Regions from separate parts of the Homo sapiens genome. Here regions 1, 2, 3 and 4 are each linked to region 5. Evidence: fine-mapped expression QTL. A gene starts in region 5. Each other region holds a variant in brackets. All regions are shown on one strand. Distances are from middle to middle. Region 1 overlaps TTC21B (tetratricopeptide repeat domain 21B). Region 2 overlaps SCN1A (sodium voltage-gated channel alpha subunit 1). Region 3 overlaps LOC100506124 (a long non-coding RNA gene). Region 4 has its middle 48 kb from the start of GALNT3. Region 5 holds the start of TTC21B (tetratricopeptide repeat domain 21B).

What was found. PIP is the estimated chance that this variant, and not a neighbour inherited with it, causes the effect. A credible set is the group of variants that fine-mapping cannot tell apart.
Region 1: its variant is the best candidate, but not a certain one, in a credible set for the expression of TTC21B in subcutaneous fat (GTEx, PIP 0.61).
Region 2: its variant is the best candidate, but not a certain one, in a credible set for the expression of TTC21B in whole blood (TOPMed, PIP 0.83).
Region 3: its variant is the best candidate, but not a certain one, in a credible set for the expression of TTC21B in stomach (GTEx, PIP 0.86).
Region 4: its variant is the best candidate, but not a certain one, in a credible set for the expression of TTC21B in blood mononuclear cells (TOPMed, PIP 0.64).

Annotation. Positions count from the first base shown.
Region 1 is chr2:165,877,338-165,881,845 of GRCh38, forward strand. It overlaps TTC21B (tetratricopeptide repeat domain 21B), which reads right to left. Exons shown (of 29, transcript NM_024753.5): 27 at 3,342-3,462. Among named protein-coding and RNA genes, the nearest start is that of TTC21B-AS1, 54 kb to the right of the region's middle. The variant T/C (reference allele first, on the strand shown) is at 2,413.
Region 2 is chr2:166,057,643-166,062,150 of GRCh38, forward strand. It overlaps SCN1A (sodium voltage-gated channel alpha subunit 1), which reads right to left. Exons shown (of 29, transcript NM_001165963.4): 5 at 928-1,046. Among named protein-coding and RNA genes, the nearest start is that of SCN1A-AS1, 22 kb to the right of the region's middle. The variant C/T (reference allele first, on the strand shown) is at 2,143.
Region 3 is chr2:165,858,560-165,863,067 of GRCh38, forward strand. LOC100506124 (a long non-coding RNA gene) reads right to left here. Exons shown (of 4, transcript NR_045375.2): 2 at 4,385-4,506. Among named protein-coding and RNA genes, the nearest start is that of GALNT3, 67 kb to the left of the region's middle. The variant G/A (reference allele first, on the strand shown) is at 2,513.
Region 4 is chr2:165,840,203-165,844,710 of GRCh38, forward strand. No RefSeq gene overlaps it. Among named protein-coding and RNA genes, the nearest start is that of GALNT3, 48 kb to the left of the region's middle. RefSeq lists an enhancer at 3,891-4,508. The variant C/T (reference allele first, on the strand shown) is at 2,007.
Region 5 is chr2:165,951,551-165,956,058 of GRCh38, forward strand. It overlaps TTC21B (tetratricopeptide repeat domain 21B), which reads right to left and starts at 2,226. Exons shown (of 29, transcript NM_024753.5): 1 at 2,135-2,226. The coding sequence starts at 2,155. RefSeq lists a silencer at 2,077-2,476 and an enhancer at 2,241-2,990.

The DNA of each region.
Region 1 (4,508 bases), 74 kb before region 5:
TGATCTAAAATTCACACTATTTTATATATAGTCAGGCACTGCATGATGATGTTTCATTAACAACAGACCACATACATGATGGTGGTCCCAAAGATTTTTATACTGTATTTTTGCTGTACCTTTTCTATGTTTACATACACACATTGCTTATAGCATTCATGACAGTAACATGCTGTACAGGTATGTAGCCTAGGAGCAATAGGCTATACCAGATAGCCCAGGTGTGTAGTAGGATCTACCACCTAGGTTTGTGTAAGTATACTCTAAGATGTTCACACAATGATGAAATTGTCTAATGATGCATATCTCAGAAGATTTCCATTGTTAAGCGACACATGACTGCATATATATATGTGTGTATGTTTATATATGTGTGTGTATATATATGTATGTCTATATAGGTGTGTATATATATATCTCTACACACACACACATGCACACAGGCACACATGGGCAGGGCCTATGGCAGAATCTCACATCTCAGATTTTAGACAAAAATAAGAAGTTTCAGAGAGGTAAACTTAATGTCATTACCAACAAATTCTAAAATGAACTAAAAGGGTTTGTGACATTCAAAAAGTAAAGCAATTTTTAAGATGTCATGCCAAACATACTTACATGGGAACTAGTCAAGATTTCAGTTTTGGTTTGTGGTTTCTTGACTAGCTTTGGGATCTTACGCAAGTGGCTTGAGCTGTCATTTTCAGGTTTCCTCATCGCTAAAACAGGAATAACAACTCCTCCCTCTAACTCTTAGTATAATTTTAAAAATCATATAAAATACTTGTGAAATGGTTTTTAAAACCTTAGAATACCACAAAATATTAGCATTTTTTAATGTAAGCATTCACTATATTATAATCACAGAATTTTAACACTGGAAGAAACTTGATACATGACCTGGTACAAAAATTTCAGAGGAAATAAAGACCTAAGAAGGGGAAAGAAAATGTGCACTGCAGCTGCACTACACCTGCCAAACTTATTAGAACTCAACTATATGCAATCAGGAGAGACAGCGAGAGAATGCAAACATTCTACACAGTCTAATGACTGTCCTATAACCTGAGAATAGGTATGAAGGGTGAAACATGAGTAGTTTCTTCTCTCATTGGATCTCAGTTGTTCCTAGTGTGTTTCTTTTTTTCCTCGTATATATTTAAGATATACAAAATGATGTCGGTGTGTAGATGTGGGTGTGTAGATATATGTGTGTGTGTGTATATATATTTATTTATAAATGATTACTGCAGTCAAGCAAATTATCCATTCATCATTCATCCTGGTGCCTCTTATAGTGACAATATTCAACCCTGAATTCTATGGAAAGAGCATGAGCACGATTTTTTTTTTTTTTTTTTTGAGACAGAGTCTCACTCCGTCAACCAGGCTGCAGTGCAGTGGTGTGATCTCGGCTCACTGCAACCTCCACCTCTCGGGTTCAAGCAATTCTCCTGCCTCAGCCTCCTGAGTTGCTGGGATTACAGGCGCCCGCCACCATGCCCGGCTAATTTTTGTATTTTTAGTAGAGACGGAGTTTCACCATGTTGGCCAGGCTAGTTTCGAACTCCTGACCTCAGGTGATTTGCCCACCTCGGCCTCCCAAAGTGTTGGGATTACAGGTGTGAGCCACTGCGCCTGGCCATGAGCATGATTTTAAGGGTTTTCTGACAACTGAAAAAGTGAAATACATTGTTTATTTGGCCAGGCACATTGAGGGTGTTAGATGCAATGACAATCTTAAGGATGAAATTGAGGAATTAATGGAGAGCCTTAGAAAGAAATGATTACCAAAGCAAAGCTAGAGGAACTGATAAAATAATCTATAAAATACAATGATGACACAATGAAAGAACTAGTCATTTGGAATCTCTTTATTTGCTGAGGTCTTCCAAGGAATGGAATATATAAATAATTTAACTTCTATGTGCATTCCTTCTATGGAATAAAGTGTCAAAATTAATATTTTAAGGATATTTAAGGACTTTTCATTTTACCAGATGACTTTATTCTGAAAGATATATCACACCTTAGAATAAAAAATACTATAAAAATCATTAGTTTTTGTGCTTTGCACAAGTCTAGTATAGTATGAGAACAGACTCCAGGAAACTAACAGATGAGGGAAGACCTGAGCTAACAGCAGTTAGTATGAGGTTGACTCATTTGACTGCAAATCAAAATCGAATTCACACGGTGACATGGCTGCTGAAAAGACTGATGCCATCTTAGGCTGAATTAACAACTACAAATTGCCTAATCAAAAGAAAAAAATAGCTTAATTATACTTATAAGAAGCCAAATCATATTTGAGAGGTTGTTCATTTATGGTACAACAGGTCAGAGGGGCATGGAAAAATAAAACAGCACTTTCCAAACTTACATGGCCATGGCATCTACCACCTTCACACT[T/C]CATTCTTTTTAATTAAAAAAAAAATAATTATTAAAATCTCCCCAACTGTTCCAAAGCACAGTTTGGGAAACACTATTTTAGAGCTTCCAGGAGACAGCAACAAGGAAGATGAGAGACTCGGAATCCAATCTTAGGAAGAATGGACAAGTAACTGCAGATGGCTTGAAGACAAGTCCTAGGACACAGGACTGAAGATTGCAATTTAAAGGGTCATGATCTGTAAGAGGGAGGCATTCTGTAAGTTGCTCCGGAAAACAGACTTGGGCAGTTTCAAGGAGGCATATTTCAACCCAATACAAAGAAAGAGTACACAAACATGAGGATGAGCTCCCTCGTATGAGGAGAGAGGTTGGTCATGACATATATTCTGATGCCACCTCTGTTAGGGACACTGTAGACTAGCATTACCCAAACTAACAGCCTGCAACATCCAGCCTGGGACTGGATGATGTTTCTAGATGCTCAGGAGAAAAAAAAAATGTCCCATGGTCAAATAATTGTGGGAAACATGGCCCCTCTGTGATATCCATCGCAATATACGTTAGTGTTTAAAGGCTTTGAGAAGTAAAGAAACCTGTGTAATTCAATTTAATGCAATATTTTCCTAACTTACTTGGCAATGGAAACATCTTTTTCCATGGCATTCCCAATTTCAAAATAGCACCTTCTTTTAGAAGGAAGAGAAGGGGGCAGAATTAGACTAGATGTACACTAAGTGACTGAGGACAAGTTTGGAACTCAGGAAACTGAACTATTAGTAGCTAATAATATATTATGAATATAAAATTTATTCTCCTTTCAGAAAGGTTGACAATGAAAATTGACTCAATGTTTATTTTGTTTTGAAAAAAATCAAATGCATTTAAATGAAAATTAATAAATACAACATAATTTTTCTGTGAAAAATCTAGGTGATTGCCAAACTCACCTACTGCCGGATTTGTCCGATTGCTATATTTCCATGCCATCTCATAGTTCAAGGCAGCATCTGTATATGCTTGCTCTTTTTCCATAATGTATCCCATATATTCATAAGCTTTGCAGCAAGACTGAAGAAAAATGGGAGACATCAATAGATTAAACTTGATATCACTAAGATTTTATGGGATGTTTGTGACTATAGAGGTCAATCATATCAACCCATTTAAATGACAAATCAAACAATGGTTTTCAACCTTGGCTAGGCAATCAAATTTTTTACTGAACTTAATAAATGATTCTGATGGCAAGTCTCCATCACATATCTGCAGAATCAGGATTTTCTTTACAGAATCAGAAATACACAATAGGGCACTTGTGTTTTACACAAGCACAGGTACACTATTATGAGTGATTTAAACACATACAAATACAGAGATAAGAGCATAATGAACTCCATGAACCCTTATCTTCAATAATTATTTTTTGACTAATACTGTTTCACCTCTATCTCACAAACCTACCCTTCTGTATTACCAGAAAAAATCCTCAGATATTGTATCAACTAAGTCTAAATGTGTTAGTGTGCATCTGTAAAAGAAAAAGACGTTATTTAAACAGAACCACAATTTTATCACACCTAAAATGTTAATGACTCCTTAATAGCACCAAATATCCAGTACTGTCTAAATTTTAATTGTCTCAATATAATTTGTTTTTGTTAGATTGAGGACTGAAATAAGGACCAAACATTGTAACTGGTCAATGTTTTGATCTAGTCTCTTGATCCAGAGGTTTCCCTTCTGGTATGTCTGTCTGTCTCTCTGTGTCTCTTTTCTTGAAATTAAATGTAATAGAAACAAGAATATTTATCCCCGAGTTTCTCACAACGCAGGTTAATTGACTGCATCCTTGTGGTGTTTATATAATATATTCCTATGTCACTGACGTTTTCTGGAAGTTGTAATTAGATGTAGAGGTTTGGATTCAATTTTGATTCTGGAGGAGAGAGGTGAATCTACTTCAAACATCAGTGCTATGATAAGCCACACTGAGGCATAAAAACATGGATGCATGTTTTTGTATATTTCTTAATTGTAATTTTTTTCCAGAATATGAGTTTAAAAATATTGAAAAATCTGAAAGTATATATTAAAAATCACTACATTTAAGACTG
Region 2 (4,508 bases), 110 kb after region 5:
AAATCTTTTAATTTTAGTAATAGCATATTTATACCACTAAAGAAATTTCTTGCTGTCATATTAAAATTAGAATGGCCGTTCAAATTTTAGAATCCTTTAAAAAAAAGTATGAGCTTATGATAATTATAATGGTATTTTAATATCTATTATTGTCAAAGCTATCAAACAAGATACAATCAGAAGTGAATTGTTTTCCTAAATTGATTAACAAATGAATTTAGTCGTGGAGTCCTTTTTAACACCAATGGGAATCATGAAACCAAATCCCTTAAGACCATTTGGAAATATATGCCAACTTCTCTCATTAACTTCCGGAGTCTTTACTAAGCAAACAGTTTTGCATGGCAGCATCATAACTCATGACTTGAATTTGAAATTCAGCCAATATTCCAGTACTTCCTTCACAAAAATCATCAGGAAATTTCAAGAATTAACTAAGTACTGGCCAAAGACTCCTGACATTCTCTGACAGAAAATATACTTAAAGGTTTATTCTAAGATACACTGAAGTGTTTTATATCATAACTATGGATAAACTTGAGTCTGGAAGTAGATTTTTCTGTTATCATATCATTGCTCACTGAAAATTCTACACCATCACAAACTTTGTATAAAGATGGTAGAGGTAAACATGGTTATCTTACTTTAGATTTGTAGGATTCAATACATATAAGTGTTTTTAGAAAGATAACAAAAGTACATAAATACATGTTTATATATAATATATAAAATGTTAAAGAGTACATGTTTCAGTAATGTCTATGTGATTAATGAACTTTAAGAATGAGGCTAATATGACAAAGATGCAAAATGAGAGTGATGAAAACTATATAATATGGACATTTCCCAACTTAATTTGATATTTAGCTATAAAGTGCTTACAGATCATGTACAAATAGTTAATATTAATCACTTGAAAAAGGATATGAATGTACCAAAATCTTAATAGCTATTTTCCTAAGAGGATTGAAGGGAGTTAAAATGTACAGGGCAGAGGTGGCACTGAACCGGAAGATGGCCTTCCCTTTATTCAATACTATAAAAGTCTGTAAGACAGGAACACAACATAGAAGTATGAAAGTATAAACCACTTAAACTCTGTTATCTACTTTCTGTTACTTGTCATAATAAATTATTGTAAAGTTAAATGAGAAACCAGCACAATCACAATTTCTAAAGTGCCCCATGAAAACAAACTGTCACTGGATCTCTTCTTAATTAGAGAGGAAATCCAATGATACCACTTACCTTTTACCTAATACTTACCCTCAATTTTATTGTACATAAGACAATTAGCCAAGAGAAGTCATTTATTTTCTCGATATTTTAAGTGTCTGAGTTAAATGAAAGTCTTAAATGGGTGCACATTTCATTTCATTCCAAAAAACTTAAGGCACTACATGCTTTTTATAGTCATTTCAGCTTTCCCAATTCAAATATCTTGAAAATTAATCCTGTGGAACGCAAAATCATTCAACAGAACTGATACTATTTTTGAAATAAAGATTGTTTTTACCATCTATCCTCATAAAATAAACATTATCACTCTCTTCGTAATAGAAAATAAAAACAGCCACCATCAAACCCACTCTTGGGTTAGATGGATGTAATCCAATAATTGATTTCTGGAGGCCAAGATCCCTGGAGAGTACCCGTTGACCAGGAGTGCTAAATTCTGTACTGGGATTTCTGAGTTAGCTGACATATTGAATTCTAATCCCAATTGACTTCCTATCTTATGCAGTGCTTTCTTATCACAGAGGAGAAGCTCCAAGCTCCTGAAGAATCCAGGATCCATGAATGTGAATGAAATTCCTTCCAAAAATTAGACTTATTTGAGATCAATTGGCAGTGGGCAGACAAAACATTAAAGAAGCAACATGTAAGGGTATAAAAAGGGCTCTGACTCAATGTTTTCCAAGGTGCTTACTTATATTTAGACAGAGCCAGGGAGAAAGCCTTTATCTCTGTGAAGAGCATATTTGGGGAAGGAAATTTTAAGCTTCTTGATTTTAAATTCACCCATTCTTCGAAAGCTTTCTTTTCTAAGCCTTAGGATGCATATCTGCACAGATCATGTTATGATACAGCAAGCATAAATGTTATGTTTATTTTCTACTAAGAATCTTTGTATAGTCTTAG[C/T]TCATTAACAGATTTCCCCTATACTTGCAGGATTTTCTAAATTCAAGTAAAGCAAACCCACCCTCCCACACCCCTACCTGCTAATGGAGTTGGTTTTTGAAAATTAAGCACTTTCTATCTGGTATGGGTAGAAGTGTCCTAAACTGGCTGTGAAAGTATGGTCCCCCAACCAGTACTGGTTAAGTATAGATATGGAGAGTCCATGTTTAGAAATTTGTAAGGCAATTTGGCCAATTAATGTTGTGTCTGTCTATTCTAATAATAAAAAAGTAGGGGGATGTTGTTGTGGGCCTGTTTTTCATTTCAGTTTTCTAGAAACTAATTTTTACTTCATTTTATAGAAGAATAGAGACCTCACATCCTCAACAGAGTTTGAGAAGCACTGCTCCAAGTCTCACCTCTGCCTGCATTCCCTCTATCATCTTTGAAGGAGTATGAGTCCAGAAAACAGATAGAGCTTTACCACAAAGCGCATTTGAAGGAAGGGAGAATTTCACCTGTGCTTACTAGAAGAACAATCCCCTATGCCAACAATACTTAGCCCTCTTTTTCTCTGATTCATTGAGGGATTCTGTCCCTGAATGACATTGTGAGATCATCGTAAATCTGAACAGACTTGTGCAATGCAAATGCCTTTGCTGTGGGGGAATATGAGCATGTAACGACACAGAAAGGCCCAAAGTGAGCTAGCTCAGGAATAAATATGGTCCACCTTTCAAATGTACTGCATATACTTCCTTTCCCCCCAGATATGCTGAGTAAAATCTGAAAGAAATATTAGGGGCTCAGATGGCCAGTCGCAGTGGCTCACGTCTGTAATCCCAGCACTTTGGGAGGCCAAAGTGGGCACATCACCTGAGGTCAGAAGTTTGAGACCAGCCTGGCCAACATGGTGAAACCCCATCTCTACTAAAAACACACAAAAAAATTAGCTGGGCCTGGTGGTGGGTCCCTGTAATCCCAGTTGCTTGGGAGGCTGAGGCAGGAGAACAGGAGAATCGCTTGAACCCAGGAGGCGGAGGTTGCAGTGAGCCAAGATCGCGCCACTGCACTCCAGCCTGGGTGATGAGAGCAAAACTCCATCTGAAAAAAAGAAAAAGAAATATTAGGGGCACAGGTAGGAGAACCAGTAAAAATATAACACAGAATATATATATTTTAAAATAAGAATCTCTTGATTTCAGATAATATTAAAAGCTAATTTTGAAACAAATAGTAGTGATACAAAGAGATAATGAGAAAGAAATGACAATCCATAGATGGCCTAAATCATGGGCTGGAGTGTGAGGATAATCAAGATGGTACTGTTTGTACCTCCGTGGATAAGGAAAATAACCAGGCTCATCCTAAGGAGACAGGACCATACTTAGAAGAGAACACCTGTGATGCTGGCTCCTTGGCCACTGTTCAGCCCAAACCATGACCAGAGGTAATAAATGACCAAAACAGAAAAGACAGACAAGGAGTGGTAAAGTAAAAGGCAAAGCTAGAGATCTAAAAGAAGGGAGGGGAAATATTTCTGCCCTGAGTACTAAAAAGTAAAAGAGGCAAGATTCAGAAACCAAACACAAAAGGTTCCAAAAAGGAAGTCTGCCTAGAAGTAAAAAGAGCAGAGGATTCTAGACAAAAATCGGGGAAAGGTGGGGACAGAGAGAAATCTGTTAAAGGACACAAAATTACAACTAGATAGGAGGAACACATTCTAGCTCTCCACACCACTGTAGGATGACTACAGTTAAAAATAATTTATTATATAGTTTCAAATAGCTGGAAGGAAGATATTGAATGTTCCCAACACAAAAAATGATAAATGTTTGAGATGACGGATATGCTAATTATTCTGATCTGATCACTATACATCATATGTATTAAAACCACTATATGCTTCATAAATATGTACAATTATTACGTGTCAATTTAAAAAATAAGATAAAAGGAGGTATAAAGGGCTGAAACTAAGTAAGATGAGTTTAATGAAACCAAAGCACTCTCAATGTTGGTATGTGATTCTAAATCTAAAAGTCCTTTGACATAGAGAAAATTAATACTTTGACACAAAAGTTAAAAACAAATGGGCATAATTATCAATTGTTCAAGCCTTAGATGAAAACATTTACTGATTTTACAGTGTATTCCCTTTATTCATTTTAAAAATTTAAAGAATGTGTAGAAGATTATTTGGTAACAAGATTTATATGTGCAATGGAAAATACTTGCAAGTTGAATTTATAAATGGAATTGGTAAGGTTTTTACTGAACAACGGTATTTGTTTTGCTTTAATTTTTCATAAGACATACTGTTGTGCAAGACATCCTTGCTACCCAGGAAGCTAACAATAAGGCCAACATTAAAGGACCATTTTTTC
Region 3 (4,508 bases), 93 kb before region 5:
GTAAGCAAGCTACCTCCTTCACAAGGCAGCAGGAGAGACAGCAAGAAAGCAGGGGAAATGCCAGACACTTATCAAACAACCAGATATTGTGAGAACTCCCTCACTATCACAAGAACAGCCTGGGAGAAACCACCCCATGATTCAATCACCTCCCAACAGGTCCCTCCCTTGATATGTGGGGATTATAATTTGAGATGAGATTTGGGTGGGGACACAGAGCCAAACCATATCATGATGCCTATCCATTTCTTTGAATTTTGTTTGATTCCTGACTGACTTATTCTTACCTCACAATGCCCCAGGATATATGTGAGCCCAAGAAAATGGGATTAAAGTCAGAGAGACTTAGTAGCGTGGCCTAATGAAAAATCCTTGGGGCTAACTGGAGCCAAACTGATTTGATACCTTCCCAGCATCTCTCCATCTTTTACATGAGCTGGGACCATGGTTAATGGCTCTTTTTATATAATAATTTAAAAATGTGTAAATATAAGGGCCACCTAGCACATAAAGAAGGAATATAAAGGTCAAGGGTCTTGTTGTTTATCAACATGGTCTTTGAGAATTGCTTATACTCAATTTTGATGAGCCTGGCTCTTTATGGCTCCTTCTTCCGTGATTTGGAAAAGTGCAAGCCTGGGCAGCTGTCAACTCATTGATACTCTCAGCAGCACAGTTCCGACTGAACTCTTAGTTTAGTCATGGTGATATCTAGTGGTTGTACCACTAGGGTGGTACAGCCCTTGGTACTGTCCTGGTTTGGGTTGCTTGGACATTTGGAGAAATAAAACAGATGGGAGAATTATGATTTTGAACAAATAATTTACCATGTTGCAAATTTCTTTATCAGTGAAAGTCCAGTAATTTTCTACATTGTTTAACTAAAAGTTGTGGGTTTTTAAATGTAGGTGTTCAACTAAGCTAGCACTTGAGTGAATTAAAAAAAAAATTGGACTAAATACTGTGGAGGGAGAAGTGCAAAAGGATCAGATAACATGTTGTAGTGGAGCCTTCAGGCTGTCTGCCCAGCAACCTTTTTATCCATAGATGTGGGCCTGGGTAACCTGTGTCACCTGGTGGCCTCCTTCCTGGCCATATTGGTGGTGGGAGTTGGGGACTAAGAAACTACACATCATTCTCTGCATGTGGCCAAACTTACAACATGGGAGTAGTGAAACGTCTGTGAGAAGTGAGAACTAGTGTATTAGCCCATTTTCATGCTGCTAATAAAGATACCCAAGATTGGATAATTTATAAAGAAAAAGAGGTTTCATGGACTCACAGTTCCACATGGCTGGGGAGGCCTCAAAATCATGGTGGAAGCTAAGGAGGAGCAAGTCATGTCTTACATGGATGGCAGCAGGCAAACAGAGCTTGCACAGGGAAACTCCCCCTTATAAAACCATCAGATCTTGTAAGAGGTATTCACTATCATGAGAACAGCATGGAAAACACCTGCCCCCATGATTCAATTACCTCCCATGGGGTCCCTCCCACAACACGTGGGAATTCAAGATGATATTTGGGTGGGGACACAGCCAAACCATATCACTCTGCCCCTTGCCCCTCCTAAATCTCATGTCCTTACATGTCAAAACCAATCATGCCTTCCCAACAGTCCCCCAAAGTCTTAACTCATTTCAGCACTAACTCTTTTAAAAGTCTACAGTCCAAAGTCTCACCTGAGACAAGGCAAGTCCCTTCTGCCTATGAGCCTGTAAAATTGAGAGCAAGTTACTTGCTTGCTAGATACAATGGAGATACAGGCATTGGGTAAATACAGCCATTCCAAATGGGAGAAATTGGGTAAAACGAAGGAGCTACAGGCCCCATGCAAGTCCAAAATCCAGCAGGGCAGTTAAATCTTAAAGCTCCAAAATAATCTGCTTTGACTCCTTATCTCACATCCAGGTTATGCTGATGCAAGAAATGGGTTCCCATGGTCTTGGGCAGCTCTGCCAGTGTGGCTTTGCAGGGTACAGCCTCCTTTCTGGCTGCTTTCATGGGCTGGCAACGAGTGCCTGTGACTTTTTCAGGTGCACAGTGCAAGCTGTCAGTGGATCTTCCATTCTGGGGTCTGGAAGATAGAGACCCTTTTCTCACAGCTCCACTAGGCAGCACCCTAGTGGGGACTCTGTGTGGGGGCTTCTACCTCACATTTGCCTTCCACACTACCCTAGCAGAGGTTCTCCGTGAGGTTTGTCCCTGAAGCAAAACTTCTTCCTGGACATCCAGGCATTTCCATACATCCTCTGAAATCTAGGTGGAGGTTCCCAAATCCCAATTCTTGACTTCTGTGCCCTCACAGGCTCAACACCACGTGAAAGCTGCCAAGGCTTGGAGCTTGCACCCTCTGAAGCCACAACCTGAGCTCTAGCTTGGCCCCTTGTAGTCATGGCTGGAGTGGCTGGGACACAGGGCGCTAAGTCCTTAGACTGCACACAGCAGAGGGACACTGGGCCCAGCCAATGAAACCATTTTTCCCTCCTAGGCTTCCAGGCCTGTGATGGGA[G/A]GGGCTACCTTGAAGACTACTGACATTCGCTGGAGACATTTTCCCCATTGTCTTGGCAATGATTCACATTCAGCTCCTCGTTACTTATGCAAACTTCTGCAGCCAGCTTAAATTTCTCCTCAGAAAATGGAATTTTCTTCCCTATCACCTTGTCAGGCTGCAAATTTCTGAACTTTTATGCTCTGATTTCTTTATAAAACTGAATGCCTTTAACAGCACCCAAGTCACCTCTTGAATGCTTTGCTGCTTAGAAATTTCTTCCACCAGATTCCCTAAATCATCTCTCTCAAGTTCAAAGTTCCACAAATCTCTAGGGTGGGGCAAAATGCTGCCAGCCACTTTGCTAAAACATAACAAGAGTCACCTTTGCTACAGTTCCCAACAAGTTCCTCATCTCCATTTGAGACCACCTTAGCCTGGACTTTATTGTCCATATTGCTATCTGCATTTTGGGCAAAGCCATTCAACAAGTCTCTAGGGCATTCCAAACTTTCCCACATTGTTCTGGCTTCTTTTGAGCCCTCCAAACTGTTCCAACCTCTGTCTGTTACCCAGTTCCAAAGTTGCTTCCCTGTTTTCGGGTATCTTTTCAGCAGCATCCCACTCTATTGGTTCCAATTTACTGTATTAGTCTGTATTCCTGCTGCTGCTAAAGACATACCTGAGACTGGGAAGAAAAAGAGGTGATATGGTTTGGGTATGTCCCCACCCAAATCTCATCTTGAATTCCCACGTGTTGTAGGAGGAACTCAGTGGGAGGTAATTGAATCATGGGGGCATGTGCTATTTTTCTGATAGCAAATAAGTCTCATAATATCTGAGTGCTGTTCTTGTGATAGCAAATAAGTATCATAATATCTGATGGTATTATAAGGAGGAATTTCCTGCACAAGCTCTCTCTTTTTGTCTGCTGTCATCCATGTAGGATTTGACTTGCTCCTCCTTGGCTTCCACCATGATTGTGAGGCCTCCCCAGGCAAGTAGAACTGTAAGTCCCACTAAACTTCTTTTTTTTCTGTAAATTGTCCAGTCTCAGGTATATGTCTTTTATCATCAGCATGAAAATAGACTAATACAAGAGGTTTAACAAACTCATAGTTCCACATGGCTGGGGAGGCCTCATAATCATGGTGGAAGCAAAAGCTACTACTTACATGGCAGTGGCAAGAGAGAATGAGAGCCAATAAGTTTCACAAGATCTACTGGAGAAGACCAGGTCTGCCCGATATGAGGGCTTTCCCTCTGCCTGGCACAGTGCCTGGCATAGAATAGGTCTTCAGTGAATATCTGGATGGATAGTTGAGTGAACAGCAACATGCAGAAAGTATCAGAGGAAAGGCATAGAGTCCTGCCCACATTCCAGTCCCTGGTTCCAGTTCCTTCCCACCTTTCAGCTCCAGTGCCAACTTGAAGAGTTACATATAACTCAGGCCATCCTAAGTTGGTTTCTGCTACTTGCAAATTGTAGAGCAATCACTGATAATAATGGTCTCTAGCTTGGGGGAACTTGGAGTATACTTTTAGACAACCTGAAAAAAAATTATGTATTTGTGTAACTGATTCCTTCCTCTTTACATGTGTGTATTTATATATGAATGTGTGTGTAGGTACATGTATATAATTATATGATATTATTTTTGGATATATACATATGTATATAAAAATGCATATATAAAAATGAATTGGGCAATTTAATCAATGTTCCTGAGCTCCCTTTTTACCTCTAAAATGAAAGGATGAGATTCAATGATCTAAAATTTTAAAAGTACACGCTTTCCAGGAATTATGTAATTGCTTTGTTAGAAAGTCACCAGAAGGTATACTGTTGCTAGAAAAGAATGCCCAGGGAAGGCACTTTGGGAATTCACGTACATGCTATGTTTTGTCATTGCTGGAAATAGTTTGGCAGCGCCTCCAGGAAGTACATTCACAGGTATTCACATATTCTCCATGGAGGCAGATGTCCAGTCTAATGACTGTGATGACTGAGGGTGCT
Region 4 (4,508 bases), 110 kb before region 5:
CTCCTTAGTTAAGCCTCCAGATGAGAACTCAGCCCAGTTGACATCTGGTTTAAAGACTGGTGAGACAATAAGTAAAGGACTCAACTAAGCCATGCCCAGTCTCCTGACTCACAGAAAGTGTGAGATAATAAAAGTGTTTGGTTTTAAGATAATAAGTTTGGGGGTAATTTATTAAACAGCAAAGGTAAGTAATACAAGGTGTTTGGTTATAAATAAGCTATAAAACTAGCTGAGAGAAAGAGAGAAGGAAGGAAGGAAGCAAGGAAGGAAGGAAGAAAGGAAGGAAGGAAGGAGAAAGAAAGAAAGAGAAAGAAGGAAGGAAGGAAGGAAGGAAAGAAAGAAAGAAAAGAAAGGAGAAAGAAAGAAAGGAGAAAGAAAGAGAAAGAAAAGAAAAGAAATGAAGAAAGGAAGAGAGAGAAAGAAGGAAGGAGAAAGACAAGATGGAAGGAATATGGCCTTAGTTAAATTGTATGGATTTTTTTTTTAGGTTTAATTTGGTGATTTTCAAATCAGTACAGAAAACATCTGAAGAAATTACAAGATTTTAAGAAAATGACAAACATCAGCAATTTACCAAGGCTTCAAGGGAATATAAGAAATCTGATAACTCATCACCACTAAGGCAAATTTGTGTGAGTGAATTCTATGAATACATAGGACTGGACAAGATCTTAAGAAGACAGATGGTCTATACTCATCTTCAGGTAAGGCTTTTCCTAAATACTTCCAAACAATGATGATGATGATGGTGACATCAATACTGTGAGCTTTTATTTACTGAGTTCCTCATATATGCATATCATACAGAATAGGAAGAAACTAATTTTTATGGAACACCTGCAGTTGTCCATGTGCTATACTGCAAACTTTATATAAGTCATCTTATAGAAAATAGCAAGCCCTTACAATAAGTCCCAATTATTTCCCCCATTTTACACACACACACACACACACACACACACACAGCCAGCCAGAGACACACAAAGAAAAAGTATCTTGCTCTAATTCACCCAACAATTAAGTTGTAAAACTATGATTCAAACCCATATTTAATAGTCCTCACGATCTGAAAAATTTCCCAAGTAATCTAATTTCCAACTTCTAGGCCATCTTCTAAGCCAAAAGATGCTAGATAGGTAACCATCCTAATTTTTTCCAATCACTTTACATTAAAAAAAATGTGAATAGGCTATAAGGTAAAACAAATTTAAATATTTGGAAAAGATTTGAAAACACAATTAATAAAAGAGAACTTCAAATGGCTAACAATGTTTGGTAAAATGGTCACCCTCACTAATAACCAGAAAAACACAAATTTAAATGAGATATCCCTTTATACCCATGAGGTTTGTAAAAATTATAATTTTCAATAATACTAGGTGTTGGGGGGACAGTGAGACTTGGAGCCTTTGTACAAGGTTAGTGGGAATCTGGGACTGATGCAGTCAGTTAGCAATGTTTGGAGAAATTGGTGGGTGTACCCTAGATCCAATGATAGGGTCTCCCACGTATTTTGTGGGAGCTAGGAGCTGGTGTCAAACAAGTTCTATTATTAGGGAACAAATAAATAAAATGTATTCAATGCACACTATGGAATAACATGCAATGGTCAGTAGCAGTGAATTAGCACGTATAGCATCATCTTAAAAATAGCATGTTGAGCCAGGTGAGGTGGCTCACGCCTATAATCCCAGCACTTTGGGAGGCCAAGGCGGGCAGATCATGAGGTCAGGAGTTCGAGACCAGCCTGGCCAATATAGTGAAACCCAGTCTCTACTAAAAATGCAAAAAATTAGCCTGGTCTGGTGGCGGCGCCTGTAATCCCAGCTACTCGGGAGGCTGAGGTAGGAGAATGGCTTGAACCTGGGAGGCAGAGGTTGCAGTGAGCCGAGATCACGCCATTGCTCTCCACCTGGGCGACAGAGTGAGACTCCATCTCAGAAAAGAAAAAGAAAAAAAGCATGTTAAGTGAATAAAAAGTATGGCAGAGAATGAAATCTATTGCA[C/T]AATATCATTTATCTAAATTAAAACATGCATGCATGTAATGAGTTTATGTATTTTTCAAAGATATTTATATATTCAATAACATATATCAAGCTCATTAGAATGGCTGCTTGTGGGGTAATGCGAAATGGAAATGAGGTCAAGAATGAACTGAAAAAACATTATGAAGGAAAAGAAGAGAGAGGCCTGACCAGACAGCTAATGACTGAACATTATTAACTACAGAATGTGACTAACTCATCTCTCAGCACTTGAGGTATCCCCAAAGACAACTAAAAATGTTGTGGAATGAAGCTCTATTGTTACTGGCTAAAGAGCTTATGCTGACCTTGGATATTTGAATTTACAAAAGTATGTACCCAACATTTTATTGGGAAAGGAAGCCACACCAGGAAAATGTGGTCTGAAATTCTGTAGGGAGCAGAGGAAAATTTTTTCTAAAGATAAAGTAATTAATTTCTTAGATTTGTACTTGGAGAAAACATGATGGCAAATATTTTGGCCAGTGTTAGAATTTGTTCATTAGTCTTATCTTAATGGAAGAGAATCTGTTTGCCTTTGAGCAGAACAGTCTTGTGGTAGATTGTTACTCTATGTATAAATAGCAAAAAGAGTCCTTCAGCCTGAGTTCCACTGTCAATCCCGCTCATTCACTCACCAATCAAGGGCTTTGTGACCTGCACACACAGGTTCCTGTGAACACCTTGCTCTGCAAGGCAGAATGCATCAATAGGATTGTTCTTTTGTCCTGGTCAACCTGATTTCATAAGGAAGAAAATACTAGGAAAAGCTAATATAATCCTCCTCCAAATAATCACACAACTTTAACATTTTTAGACATAGGGTCCAGAACACATTTTCAATCCAGTGTTTCAGGAAGTTAGAAATGATACATTAATAAATGAGTAAATAAGTAAACCAAAAAATGAAAACAAGCAAAACAAAACAGAAAACCTAAGATACACGTCTTTACCTTAAATACAATATTTACCCTTGGCTACAAATTTGAGGTAATATGTCCTACAATAAATGTTATAATTTGGCTGAAAGTGATTTTATCCATTTTGATAAGATAGATGAAAGATAAAGAAAAAATAGGCTAAATAAGAAATAACTTCATTTATCTACACTTTTTAAGAATTACGGTTTATCTTATGTGATTCATCACTTAACCTGATGACTACTTTTTGTTAGTTAATTTCCCATTTTAAAAAAACCTAAATGTTTTCAGTAGAATTATTTATTGTTTGCAGTGATTAGAAACTAACTATATAGTTTTGGCACAGAATATCCAAGTATCCATAACAATTAATGTGCTATAACAGTAATGTCTGCAAGGGTCACTGGAATGCGAGGACTTGGCATGATGCAAATAGCCCTGAACTTCCACATGTTTACAAATTCTATTTGCCTCTTCTTGGTACATTTTCTCTCTGTTTTCTTTTACTTCTTTTTACCATGATTTTTTTTAGATGTTACACCCTCCCTTGGCCATCCTCATGCCTACCATGGTCATATCTTTTCCTGTGTGTGTGTGTGTGTGTGTGTGTGTGTGTGTGTGTGTGTGTGCATATATCTATCTATATATATGTAAAATGTATGCTTTTATATATATATATAATATGAATGCATATATCTATCTATATATGTATATATCCATATATAAAAGTCCATGGGTTTTGTGACAACCATGTAGAGAAGTTACTTGCTGTTTACTTTAGGGTATGTGTACCAACCTCAATTATCCAGGGGAAGTTCTAAAAACTTTGTGGTACCCAGAGTAGGGAATCCTTTCTGTTCAAAATTATTTTAAATACATTGTCACGGTTTTTATTTGGATTTATCTGCCTACTAATAGATATATGTGTTCCATCTGGGGTTGATAGTTCATTTCTTTCTATAAGGTGATCAACCAAAAGCAACAGATAGAATTTTAGTAGTACCTGTTTTATTTTGCAGCTCCTGAATTTTACCAATGAGTTAAAAAAAAGGTGTTTTTTTTTCCCTTTGGCTAACTCCAAAATATTCAGAGGCTGACAAAATCTGAATCTTATTTAGTTCTTGTTATAGCAACAGCAAAATTTAGCATTGGAATGCACAAACATTTCTTCATCTGAAGAGGTATGAATAACTTCTCAGCCTCTTTTGTCATTAGAATGCTACTCTCCAGTTGCAAAGAGTAAACCTCGTGAATGGGGCTATGTCTCCACACTTAGCAGTGGAATTGTAATAAAATTACAGTAACCACCTTTTTGTTAGAAGTTCTCTGAAGTTGAGCTATTAACATAACCAACAGTACCTAAAGTGTGACCTGCAAACAGAGCTTTTCAAACACCAAATACAATGCCCTATTCATGGTCGATACTCTATAAATAGCAGATCATCATTTCCCTTCCCTTAATCCTTAGAATAGCCTTAACTAGTAAATACTGTTATCTGATTTTTAAGAATAATAATAAAAAAAAGAAGATGTATCTGGCTATCCAAGCTGGTTACACAAACTC
Region 5 (4,508 bases):
TTTGCCCAGTCTCTCTAAGTCTAACCACTTAGTAGGTTCTTCTATTTCTCCAGTCTACCTCCCACTAAACATACCTAATGCTACTGCCTTGGTTCAGGTTAGGTTATTCAATCCAAAACATTTACTGACTGCCTACTAGTACCCAGGCACTGGGCTAGCTACTATGAATAGAAAAATGAGTAAGACATGGTTCCTGTCCCCCCGGAAAACCTACATTTTTCAGATGAGACTGTAATCTGAAGACTAACTGAAATATAATGTAGTAAATGTAAGAAAAGAGCTTATAAACTCCTTTGGGAATGTGGGATAGCAACATTTTGACAGCATTGAAAACTGAATGTGGTGTGAGGGGAGGATGGATGACTAAAATCAAGGGAAAGATTATTGGGGAGGATTTCAGAGCTGACTCTTGAATTGCAAACCCCTCATTCTCCCTCCACACACGTACACGCTCTTCCTATTTCCTTTTCATGATTCTTGAGGAAGGTACAGGAGTTAGGAAGAGGAACTGCAACAACACAGATAACAAGTCATCAATGGTACATTGGGATGGCAGTGGTGATGAAGATGACTAAAAGCCACTCCATACTCTAGAGCAGGGTTTGGCAAACCACACTCTGTGGGCCATATCTGGCTGGCTGGCTGTACAGCCAGTGAACTAAGAATGGTTTTTATATTTTCCAGCTGTCAAGGAAAAAAAAGAAATATTTCATAACATGAAAATTACATGAAAGTCAAATTTCAGTGTTCATAAATAAAGTTTTATTGAAACACAGCCATGCTCATTTAAGTATTGTCTATGGCTGTTTTGAACAAGCCAATTAGATGTGATAGACCATACGGTCCATAAAGTCTAAAATGTGTACTATCTGGCCCTTTGTTGAGAAAGTTTGCTATTCTCTGCTCTGGAGGCTTAAGTGAGACAGAGAGTATTGGATGATGAGGTTGGAGACGAAGGTGGGGTGAAAAGCCTCATATTAAGTACTTGGACTTGAACCTCAAGTCTAAGTAATGAGGAGGCCCATTTTTACATTTTACATTAAAGTGTTTTTATTAAAATGTTCATTTGGGTGGCAGTGCAAATAATACATTTAAGGGAATAAAAAAATGTAAGGATATAGGGGGATAGCTAGAACAGAGGATAATGTAAAACTTCAGGCAGAAAAACAAGACATTTCAGCATTCCCTAACCTCCTACATCGCCAAATTGTCCTCCATCCACTTATCACCATCTCACAGGATACACATTTCATTTACCTACTTGTTGTCTGACTCCTCCTACTCAAATGTAAGCTCCAAGATTGGAAGAGTTTTTCTTGGTTTTATTATTTCAGTGCTTAGAACAGTGCTAGACACATAGGAGGCATTCAGTAAATATTTGTTGAGTCAACTGAATTAGGGTTTTTCCCCAGCATTAATTAGCCTGTAAAATCTGAGAAGGCAGAAACTGTTCAGTTTTGCTCACTGCTATCTCCAGCTTCTAATGGACATACAGTAACCCTTCATAAATATTTGCTGAACGAGTGATTCAGTGAACAAATGAATAGAGAAGACCAACATCCGAAAAGTTATTTTATTTTCAAGCCTCATGTCTTTAACTGTTTTATATCAGCCTTTCTTAAGTTGACCGTCATTAATATTTGCTGAATGAATGAGTCAGTGATAAACAGAGAAGACCATCACCCTAAAATAACGACCCCTCCACTTTTAAGTCTTACGTCTTTAATGGGTTTCATATAATCTTTCTGCGCTCTTTTTACTGTCCAGTGTGGGAGCTGACACTAGTTTGCCTTAAGTCCTTAAAAATCGCACCCGGAGGCGCAGTGTCATAGGTAACCCAAGCTTTCCTAGTAAACATGATACAAAAGTAAACACAACCAACAGCATGGGGACCAGCAATTCAGAAACACCGAGCGGGCGGGCTGCCCAGACCTGGGCTTCCCCAGCAGGGCCCGCGGAGACCGGCCGTGAGCAGAGGCTGCAGGCCCACCCCGCAACCCGAGCAGCCGGGGCACCGCAGGGAAACAGCGGCCTAGCGAAGCCACCCGAGCTCCCTCCGCGCCCCCGGGCCAAAAGGCCGCAAAGGAACTCCGCCCGCCCGCCCGCTCACCCGCTCACCCGCTCACCCGCTCACCTTCAATTCCTGCGAGTCCATGGCTGCCCCGAGGCCGGGCCGCGGGGCTCTGGGGATTGTCTCGCCGCAGCCTAAAGGAAGACGCAGAATTCAGCTCCCCTAGCCTCCCGGAGCGCTCTAGCGCCCCGGGCCCCAGCGGGAGGGGCGGGGTCGCGCCGCGATTGGCTGTCGGAGGGAGAGGCGGGCCTGTGTGGCGGGGATCGTGCTGTAATGGAGCAGGGGCGGCGGGGACCCGGAGGTGAGGGCTGCGAGGGCCGCCCGGGAGGGTCCGGGCTGGGAAAAGGGCCTCCGCCGGAGAGTGCAGCTGGAAAAGGAGGTCACACTGGGAAACGGCTGTCTGAGGACAGTGGGTGGGCGGGCCGAGGAAATGGAATTCAGGAATAAAGGAAACGGAGTATGAAGAAGGGGAAGTCTGTTTCCTGTCACTGGTTGTAAAGGAAGACACCATTTTCTGCACGTTTGTCTGGAGGCGGATTCCCGCAGTGCGGCTCTCAGCAAGGCTCTGCCGGCGCGGGAAAAAGCGGTCAACTTTCACGTGGGCAAGTTGTTTTACGGCCACAAGGTGGCGCAGAAAAAAAAAATCACACGTTCTTAACAGAAATACGGTGCGCTTGGGCCCGTCTTTGCAGGCGTTGCTGCAATCTTTGTTAGAATGTGTGTTCAATTAGCCCTTTTTTACCAGCCCCGATAATAAGAGGGACAAATAAATTAAACTTCCAGAAAATTAGTGTCTTGTTTTCAATGATACTACTGATTTTAAACTGAGAATAAAATGAATCCCAATGCAAATTTTTATGTTTGCACCCCATTAGGCAACTCAATCAGTCACACATAGATTTCTTAAGTCCAGGAAATTAAATGGAAATATAATAGACTAAGATTTTCTATTTCTGCTTAAATAAATATTTAAAATAGTGCATAAGGTCTGAGATTTAAGTGATCTTTGCAGAATCTTTCACGTGGATTCCAAATTTTGATCCTAGTGTTAATTATCTTACTTTAGTTGACATGATACGTAGTTGCCTTTTCCAGATTTTAAGTTTCTTAAGGAGTTTATAAACATTGACTTTTTCCCCATGCCAATAGGTTATGTAAGGACAGTCTTGAGAAAAACGGTAGCTACCATCCTAGGCTTTAAGGTGAAGCAATATTTCTCACCGGTTTCTCTTTAAAGGAATTCACCACGTATTTTCACGAGCAACTTTTTTTTCTTTCCAATATTTATAGTCCAGCTAAATGTCTGTGGTGATGAACAACTGGTGATATCTCTTTGATTTTCAAAGCTGCGGATTAATCCGCACTTGGTATACAGCAAAGAATACCACAGGACCAGGGTGCTCAATGAAGTGTATAATCTTGAACTGTAAACCTTTGGTTATAAGAGAAAAGTTCATCTGTAAGGAAATATCTCAGGATCATGGTTAACAGAACAGATGATCAACCTACCTTTTGGAGATCTTGAAAGTCATATTAATTTAGCCTCGTATTCTCTTCACTGAATTCTGTTCTAAGGTTGAATTATTTAGCACAAAACACCAAGCCTGATGTTTCATAAATGTTTGTTGGATTAAAAGTACTCTGAGATTTGCTTTGACACTCACGGTGACTTGGTGTGCCCTGTGCCCTTACTAGATCTCATGTAAGAAATTTATTTTGGATCTCAGGCCAGGAAAAACTCTTGTCTTTCCTGAAAAATCGATGTGTTCCTTAGCAGTAACATTTTTATCGGCTCACTTTTACTAGCTACAAACTTTTGAGTCTGATATCCATGACCCTTCACCTCATCGTCTTTTCAAGCCTTATCTTCTACCTCCCCTTCAAGGAGCCTTTATTCCGCTCAGTGGGACAAATATTCCTTCTTCTGGTAATGCTTTCCCCTACTTTGTTTTGAGCTCTTTCTTCACCTGAGAAAATCTCCTTCTTCTGAGTTCATTTCAAATTTCATGAAGTCTTTAAGGATCACCATAACTGGATGGGTATAAAAATATCACAGTGTAGTGGCAAGAATACCCTCTTCTGCATCTGAGGTGGAGCTCCTATTACGCTAGCTACTTTTGTGACTTGGGGAAGTAATTTCCCTAAGCCTCATTTTCCTTATTTACTAAAGAAACTAAATGCCTTACAGACATATTAAAACTTCCTGACACATAATAGGCATTGTATAACCAATAGTTTCCATTAAACACGTAGTGCTCTATAGCAGTGGTCCCCAATCATTTTGGCACCAGGGACCAGTTTGGTGGAAGACAATTCACAGAAGATAAATTTTCCATGGACAGGGGTAGGGGAGATGGTTTCGGGTTGAAACTATTCCATCTCAGATCATCAGATTCTTATCTAAGGAGCATACAGCCTAGATCCTTCACATGCACAG